Regions from separate parts of the Homo sapiens genome. Here region 1 is reported to be linked to region 2. Evidence: microRNA targets listed by miRTarBase, many of them from high-throughput screens and not tested one by one. Region 2 holds a microRNA gene; the other region holds the end of a gene's coding sequence.
Evidence for each region. The annotated mature microRNA hsa-miR-520a-5p reads CUCCAGAGGGAAGUACUUUCU and lies in region 2 at 2,843-2,863, shown strand. An mRNA with a match to its seed (bases 2 to 7 or 8) in the 3' UTR can be bound and repressed. Matches are read on the target gene's strand: a 7mer-m8 pairs with bases 2 to 8, a 7mer-A1 pairs with bases 2 to 7 and ends in A, and an 8mer does both.

Region 1: miRTarBase lists HOMEZ as a target of hsa-miR-520a-5p. Seed matches in the 3' UTR shown: 7mer-A1 at 1,088-1,094 and 8mer at 604-611.

Annotation. Positions count from the first base shown.
Region 1 is chr14:23,272,027-23,276,423 of GRCh38, forward strand. It overlaps HOMEZ (homeobox and leucine zipper encoding), which reads right to left. Exons shown (of 2, transcript NM_020834.3): 2 at 396-4,397. The coding sequence ends at 3,549. RNF212B (ring finger protein 212B) reads left to right here. Exons shown (of 15, transcript NM_001282322.3): 15 at 797-1,451. The coding sequence ends at 865. Among named protein-coding and RNA genes, the nearest start is that of HOMEZ, 12 kb to the right of the region's middle.
Region 2 is chr19:53,688,053-53,692,449 of GRCh38, forward strand. It overlaps MIR520A (microRNA 520a), which reads left to right and starts at 2,829; the gene lies at 2,829-2,913. It overlaps MIR1283-1 (microRNA 1283-1), which reads left to right and starts at 429; the gene lies at 429-515. The region is part of intron 2 of LOC107985342 (a long non-coding RNA gene); the gene reads left to right.

The sequences.
Region 1 (4,397 bases), not on the chromosome of region 2:
AGGGACACTGGGAGAGTAGAAATAAAAGATTGGCCATTAATTATTTGTTAAAGATGGACAATGGGCACATGAGTTCATTATACTATTCTATGTATTTTTTGAAAATGTGGGCCAGGCGTGGTGGCTCATGCCTGTAATCCCAGCACTTTGGGAGGCCGAGGCGGGCGGATTATGAGGTCAGGAGATCGAGACCATCCTGGCTAACATGGTGAAACCCCGTCTATACTAAAAAAAGTACAAAAAATTAGCCGGGCATGGTGGCGGGCGCCTGTAGTCCCAGCTACGTGGGAGGCTGAGGCAGGAGAATGGCGTGAACCCGGGAGGCGGAGCTTGCAGTAAGCGGAGATGCACCACTGCACTCCAGCCTGGGTGACAGAGCGAGACTCCATCTCAAAAAAACAACAAACAAACAAACAAACAAACAACCGAAAATGTGAAAAAATTTTAAAGTTATTGAAGGAAATGCCACCTCCTCAGAGGCCTAAGAACTCTGCCTCCCTGGTAGTCATCTCTGGGTGTGGTAGTCATATGTCCCAGATTTTCCAAAATAGTTTAATTTTCAAATATTCATCCTTATTATTATCACCATAAGCTACTGAAATGTTCCAGAGATTGTCACACTAGATGTAGCAAATCCTAGTTTGGAAAAGTTAGTTATCATGCAATGAAGAAAACTATGGGGAAGCAAAAGCAGTGGTGTCTGTCTCGATAAGCTTCATACAACAGGTCAGAGAGACTTGCTTGCCCTTTTTGCTGTTATAAACACCCACATCTACCTTCTTGTCCTCTGCTGCAGACTCTCTACCAACAACGGAGGCATATGGGATTACCCAGTGGGAGAGAAGCATGGACCACTTCTAGATAGATCATCTTCAAGATCTGATCTATACATGCTGCTGAAGGATGGACTGTAGCTTCCAGTACGCATTAGGGGTGATGGCCCTGGAAAATGTATCCCTGCATTGTTTCCTAGTTTCACTCTGTACCTTATGCTCCCCCCATCTTTACCCTATTCACCCTTATCACCTCCCAGGACAGTGGTCAGGTCTTACAAAAGGCTAGTGCTTCAGGAAGATGTTTATATCTCTTCCAGAAGACACTGGTAGCTCCCCTCATTTCCTACAATTTGGAACAAAGGTCAAAAAAATAATTCTTGGCATCATGCTTGGTTGGGAGTTGGGAATGGGGATTGTGATGGATCATATACTCATCACTGTTTCATTTCTGGATTTCATTTTTAGCTTTGGATATACTGTCCCATTGCCAATGTTAACGAGCAATATCTCTGTTCTTTTCCTTATTATACTTTTTTATTTGTCTATTATTTCCTCTATGCTTAGTTACTATTAAATGTTAATTTTCCTTTCTATTGAAAACAACTGTTGGAGACACTGATTTTCAGCTTAGTATATAGATAGTAAAATAAAGACGATGCCCTTTTATTGCTACAATTCTATCACTTTTACAAGCTCTAGAATGGTGGAATGGGCGAACAACACTATCACTGAGATCAAACATGTATTCTACTTTGGGTTTTAAAAGGCAGAAATGACGAATTAAATAGGTTAGCCACTCACAAGCTGGCCTTAAGCAAAAATACTGGAAAAACAGAAAATAGCAGGCATCTGCCAGAAATAAATTAGGTCTTGGGAATGATCTTGTATCTGAACTAGGATCCCCATACCCTTTCTGGTACTCTGAATTTATTTTAAAGGCATTTCTAGATACCTTCTCTTTTAGGCAAGGGCCTGTCCTGTAGCAAATGGAGTTACCTCCAAGACTGTTGTATCTCTGTTACTCCTGAAGCCTCAGAAATTTTAGTCATTATCATTTGATGGCTGAGAAACAACCTGGCTGGCGATAGATGCTGAACTACTTCCTTTTTACAGTTTTTGTTCTTTTAATTTACCTCAATAAGTCCTGCCCCTCCAAACAATAAGTTAAAAGTATGCTGAGTTAGAATGTTAATGGATTTGGTTCCATTAATCCCTAAACCATAGGAGTGGCAAAGTGGTTGAGAGAGAAACAATTTTATTTTTGGCCTTTTTATTATTATTCTAGCATTTTAGGGCTTCCACTCTTTTATTTTTAGATGGTTAACTCATTGATGATACCTATTTGCCATATAGCTGATCCCAACTGATGAAAACCATTCTAAAACATCAATAATTAATTCACTTAAAGACGATGGTCCCTCTGTCCCTAAGACAGATCCTATCAAGAGAGGGAAAAGTCTCTTTTCTGGAAACAAATTGACAGCAAAAAGATGAAAAATTAGTCTCTGTCAAGCTGGACAGGAGGTAGTTAACAGGTTTGTAAAACCAAACCTGAAACCTACCTTCACTGCCCTTCAACAAGGAGAAACTATTCCCTCTCTTTCACCCCTTTGTAACACAATTCTACTGTTTAAAAGGACATCTTCCCTAATTACCACCTCCAATAAATATCCATTCTAAATTATTCTCCACCCAATTATTAAAGTTTTTTACAAGCTCGGTGGGGGAAGATTTTCCCTGAGACAAACAATGAACAGAGTGAGGATTTTGGAAAGATAGAAAAAGCTACAAGGCAAAGTGGTCACAGCATAAGAACTGAAAATAGCCGGGCACGGTGGCTCATGCCTATAATCCCAGCACTTTGGGAGGCCAAGGTGGGCGGATCATGAGGTCAGGAGATCAAGACCATCCTGGCTAACATGATGAAACCCGTCTCTACTAAAAATATAAAAAAGTAGCCGGGTGTGGTGGCAGGTGCCTGTAGTCCCAGCTACTCGGGAGGCTGAGGCAGGAGAATGGCATGAACCTGGGAGGCGGAGCTTGCAGTGAGCTGAGATTGCGCCATTGCACTACAGCCTGGGCGACAGAGCAAGACTCCACCTCAAAAAAAAAAAAAAGAACTGAAAAATTCTGCCACCTGTGATTTAGTCATGAAGCGGGTGAAACATAGTCAAGTTGGTATGAGGAAAAGGAAATATTAATATTTGTGATGAGACTGGGACTTATTGAGAATCTTGGTTGTCTAGGAAATGATCAGTTACTAAGAAAAAAGTAAGAGAGTCAGTTGCATTACGCACAGACTTGTGCTCAGAAAAGGGGTACAAGGCAGCCTTATATTCCAGGTAAGATGGTGGGATTGGGGATGCACTGGAATCATCAATCAAATCAGAATCCTTTACTCCTCCTTTCCAATCCTCCTGGAGAGGTGGTGCCAACATCTGGCCTCTGTATAGTACACCAAGGGAAAAAAACAGCAGACACGAGGAGAGCAAGAGCAGCTTCCCAGCCCATGGTTTCCCCAGATCCTTAGCACTCCCTACCCTAAGGTTAGAGGGTTGGATTTCTGCTGATCCAATCCCAGCCTTACTTAGTGCCCTATGGTCATTCTCCCTGGTCCACCCTCACTATATCCCCCTGCCACCCACCCTGAAGAACACAAAGCTTTTTAGTTCTCTGCCACAAGGTAATTTTAAAAATGTGGTTTCTTTGTTTAAACAGTTACTAAGTTGGTTCATCTTTCAGTAACAGACCTCCCCTCCCCCAGCTCCCCACTCAGTCTTGTATGATCACATCATCATCATCATCATCATCATCTTCCTCCTCCTCCTCCTCCTCTTCCTCATCATCTTCTGGCAGTTCTTCCTCCTCCTCTTCCTCTTCTTCATCTAGACAAACTACCACCTCAGCTGGCTGAGGTAATCGAGAGTCAAACCAATCCAGCACCTGCTGGGTGCTAAGCCTTGATGCCTGACTCAATTGAGGGATATCAGTTTCCCGTAGCTGTTGGTGGGCTGCCCAGTACCTCTCCAAGGGTTGTATATCCGGTGGGGGTGGAGGGATCGGCAGAGGTGGTGTCTCAGCCCTTTCGTTCAAGGAGCGGGTTGATGGTGGTGGTGTAGGAATTGCTGGGTCTTGGAAACTAGGGGCACCAGGTACTGCGTTGTCCCGAAACCACTTTAGTTGCCCATGCTTCAAGGCATAGCGTGTGTCACCAAACCACTGAATGATCTCAGGCCGAGGTAAACCAGTGATCTGTTCTAACTTTTGGTAATCCTCACGCCGTGCCCACTGGCACTGTAAAAAAAAGGATTTAAGGATAGCCAGCTGCTCTTTGGTTTTGCGCTTGGTCTTTCGCTGGCGTTGCATATCTGGGGAAAGGTACTCTGTGGGGCCAACTCTACCTGGTACTGAGTTATGCCGTAGCCCTTGGGGCCAGGCTGGTTCCAGATGTGGGGGTAATGCCTGTTCACTGGGTGACACTGACTGTGGGACACAGCCTAGTGGCTGGAGGGGTTTAGAGGCGGCAGTAGCTCCATTAGCCAGTACCTGGAAAGAAGAAGAGGTAGAGGAAGAAGAGGGAGTAACACTAGATGCTGACTCCTCCTTACAACTACTGGCAAT
Region 2 (4,397 bases):
GTGGTCTATCCTGGAGGATGTTTGTGTGTGCGACAATGTATATAGTTCAACATCTTAGATCACATTTTGGATGTTTCCAATGGGACTGTGTGTCTCCGCACTGGAACTCAAATGAACACTTGGCTCAGAATCCATTTGCTGTTCTCTGGAAATCCAGTCCAATTCTCTTGGTTAAGTATAAGGTATGTCTAGTAGGCATTGCTTTTTCTGTTTGAGAACAAAACTCGGGAGGATTGTCCCTTGATGAACAAGGCTAACCTGCTGAGCCTTTGAAGCAAGGAACTGGAGATGGTCCTTTTCAGGCGTTTTATTCTGGATTCCAGAAAACATGCAAACAGGGCCACTAAATGCATCTTTATTTTTCTGTCCATTTAAACCTGGTCAAAGAAAATTCCAACACGAAACCCAGAGTGCTGGAGCAAGAAGATCTCAAGCTATGAGTCTACAAAGGAAAGCGCTTTCTGTTGTCAGAAAGAAGAGAAAGCGCTTCCCTTTTGAGGGTTACGGTTTGAGAAAAGCAGTGTTGAAGTTGATGCTGATCTTGGTAATACATTTGCAGAGCATGCTTATCATCAGACTTGGATGATAGCGGGGTTATGTTTTGGTTTTGTGTTTTTCTAAGACAGGGTCTCCGTTGCCCAGGCTGGAGTGCGGTGGCACTTCCAACCTAGCTCTCTTGGGCTCAAGTGATCCTCTTTTTATTTATTTATGTATTCATTTTTGAGATGGAGCCTGGCTCTGTCACCCAGGCTGGAGTAGAGTGGGATGATCTCCACTCATTGCATCCTCTGCCTCCCAGGTTCCAGAAATTCTCCCACCTCCGTGTCACTAGTAGCTGGGATTACAAATGCTCACCACTATGACCTGCCAGTTTTTGTACTTTTGGCACAGACGGGGTTTCACCATGTTTGCGGGGCTGGTCTCAACTCCTGACCTCAAGTGATCTGCCTCCTTGGCCTCCCACAGTGCTGGGGATTATAGATATAAGCCACCGTGCCCGGCCCATTCCTGTCTTTTTAATTTAATCTGCTCGTCCCTGACATCGAAAATTTTTCTTGCTTAACAGCTTCCACTTATTTCTCGGAATAGACCTTTTTCTGCAGGAAGGGTGTAGTTGATTCAACCCTCACCCACTCATGCCAACCGTAGTGAGTGCTGTGACTGCAGCTGCACTGTTTATCCTGTTTTCTGCAGGTAATTTTTCCAGTGTACCATTCCAACCTGCAAAACCTCACATTTAAATGCAAATTTCTTGGTAAGCTGTGAAATGTTGGCTGTGGCTAATATGAGAAACAAGCTATTATAGACAAGATGAATCTCAGTTGCAGTGATAAATGTCACATGGGACAAAACCACAGATACTTTCACAAAAACCTTGAGGACCCTAGAAGGGCCTCCCTAGTAACAGGTGGGATGCGCATCCGCTCTTGTTGCCATAGTGAGTGATGCCTGTTCGTCCAGCCCTCAACACCTTTCACTCCGTGGAAGTTATGCCTGCACTGGTTTACAGAACCTCCCTTGACTTGACTTGAGGTAGAGTTGAAGGGAACCTCAGTGTCCCTTGCAGATGGGATGTGCATTGCTTCGCAAGAGCACAGAGGTGGAGTGCATGGGCTTTGAGTTTTTATTGGGTAAATGAAGCTGAAATACAGGGTGTATGACCACGTTATCAACGCACACTTGATTTAGGTTTTGTATTTTAGAGACGGGGGTGTGAGCTGCCAAAGCAAGGACTTATGTGTAGGAATTATTCTTTCTGTGAGCATACAGTATATGGAACTTTCTTTCTTTTGAGACAGGGTCTCAAAAATATATGATGTATGGCCAGGTGCGGTGGATCACGCCTGTAATCCCAGCAGTTTGGGAGGCCGAGGCGGGTGGATAACCTGAGATCAGGAGGGCGAGACCAGACTGGCCAACATGGTGAAACCATGTCTCTGCTAAAAATACAAAAAATTAGCCAGGGCTGGTGGCGCACGCCTGTAGTCTCAGCTACTCCGGAGGGTGAGGCAGGAGACTATCACTTTGAGTGTGTGTCTTTGTGTGTGTGTGTGTGTGTGTGTGTGTGTGTGTATGTGTTTCTAGTTTTTACAAGACACAGCCTGACTATATCACCGAGGCTGGAGTGCAGTGGTGCAATGTTGGCTCACTGCAACCTCCACCTGCCACCGCAGCCTCCTGAATTAGTGTCTACAGGTATGCACCACCACACCTGGCTCACTTTTGTATTTTTTGTACAGATGAAGCTTCACCATGTTGCCCAGGCTTGTCTGGAACTCTTGAGCTCAAGTGATCCTCTCACTTCGGCGTCCTGAAGTGCTGGGGTTAGAGATGTGAGCCACCGCACCCAACAGGTACTTGTGTATTTTTTTATTGAGGAGCTTTTACAGCGTAGCCTGTGGTCTCTCCTGGAGGATGTTTGTGTGTGCGACAATGTACATTCTTCAACATCTTAGATTCCATTTTGGATGCCCCCATGGGTACTACATGTGCCTATACTGGAACTCAAGTGAACACTTGGCTCAAAATCCATTGCTGTTCTCTAGAAATTCAGTTCGATTCTCTTGGTTAAAGATAAGGTATGAGTAGTAGGCATTGCTTTTTCTCTTTGGGGGCAAAACTCAGGAGGATTGCCCCTTGATGAACAAGGCTAACCTGCTGAGCCTTTGAAAGAAGGAACTGGAGATGGTCCTTTTAGGGGGTTTATATTCTGGATTCCAGAAAACATGCAAACAGGGCCAGGAAAAATGCATCTTTATTTTTGTGTCCATTTAAACCTGGTCAAGGAAAATTCCAACAATAAACCCAGAGTGCTGGAGCAAGAAGATCTCAGGCTGTGACCCTCCAGAGGGAAGTACTTTCTGTTGTCTGAGAGAAAAGAAAGTGCTTCCCTTTGGACTGTTTCGGTTTGAGTAAAGCAGCGTTGAAGTTGATGCTGATCTTGGTAATACATTTGCAGAGCACGCTCATCATCAGACTCGGATGATGTTGGGGTTCTGATTTTGTTTTTCTCCAAGACAGGGTCTCTGTTGCCCAGGCTGGAGTGCAGTGGCAGTTCCAACCTAGCTCTCCTGGGCCCAAGAGACCCTCTATTTATTTATTTATTTATTTATTTATTTATTTATTTATTTATTCATTCATTCATTTAGAGATGGAATCTGGCTCTGTGACCCAGGCTGGAGTGCAGTAGGACAATCTCCACTCACTGCAACCTCCATCTCCCAGGTTCCAGCAGTTCTGCCACCTCAGCCTCCCATGTAGCTGGGATTACAGGCGCCCACCACCATGTCATGCTAATTTTTGTATTTTTAGCAGAGATGGGGTTACACCATGTTTGCTGGGCTGTTCTCAACTCCTGACTTCAAGTGATTTGCCTCCCTGGCTTCCCAAAGTGCTGGTATTACAGGCGTGAGCCACTGTGTCCGGCCTCAAGTGGTCTTCCTGAGTCAGCCTCCCAAGTAGTTGGGATTACATGGGGCGTGACACAACACTTGGTTCAGCTTTTAATTTTTGGTAGAGATGGGGTCTCTGTTGCTCAGGACGGTCTCAACTCCTGAGCTCAAGCGATCCTACAGGTGTGAGCCACCTTGTCCTGATGACCCATTTCAAAGATAGTTGACTTGGCCAGGCATCATGGGGCACACAGTCCCAGTTACTGCAGGGGCCGGGGCGGGAGGGTGCTTTGATTTTAAGGCTATACCGTGCACAGATCCCACCTTTGAATAGCCACTGCACTCCAGCCTGGGCCAACATAGCAAGATCCCATTTCTTTAAAAACAGATTACATAGCACCTGGTCCCACAGATTTCATTTGGGTTGGTCATGTCATACAATGGCCTCCCATCAATTTAGTATAATCAATCCAAACCATGGTTCCTTCATTAAGAGAGTGGGTAATCCTCCAAGTCCATCCAGTCTATTCTGTAATCCCCAGTGGGTGTCCGTATTGATACAATTTCTTTTTGTTCCTGTTCACTCGTGTCTTTTTAGTGTAATCTGCTTGTCCGTAACACTGAAATTTGTTTTTCCCCAACATCTTGCCATCATTTCTCGGAATAGACCTGCTTTCTCTGCAGGAAGGGTGTAGTTGATTCAACCCTCACCCACTAATGCCAACCCCAGTGAGTTCTTTGACTGTAGCTGCCATGTTTATCCTATTTTCTTTGGGTAACGATTCCAAGGTACCATTCCAATGGGCTTAAACCTTGCATCTAAATGCCAGTTACTTGCTAAGATGTCAAATGTGTCTTATATTAGCTGTGGCTAATATAAGAAACTGTTGTAGACAAGATGAATCTCAGTCACAGTGATAAATGTAGCATGCAACAAAACCAGTTGTTTTCACAAAAATCTTGAGGACCCTAGAAGGGGCTCCCTCGTAACAGGTGGAATGCACA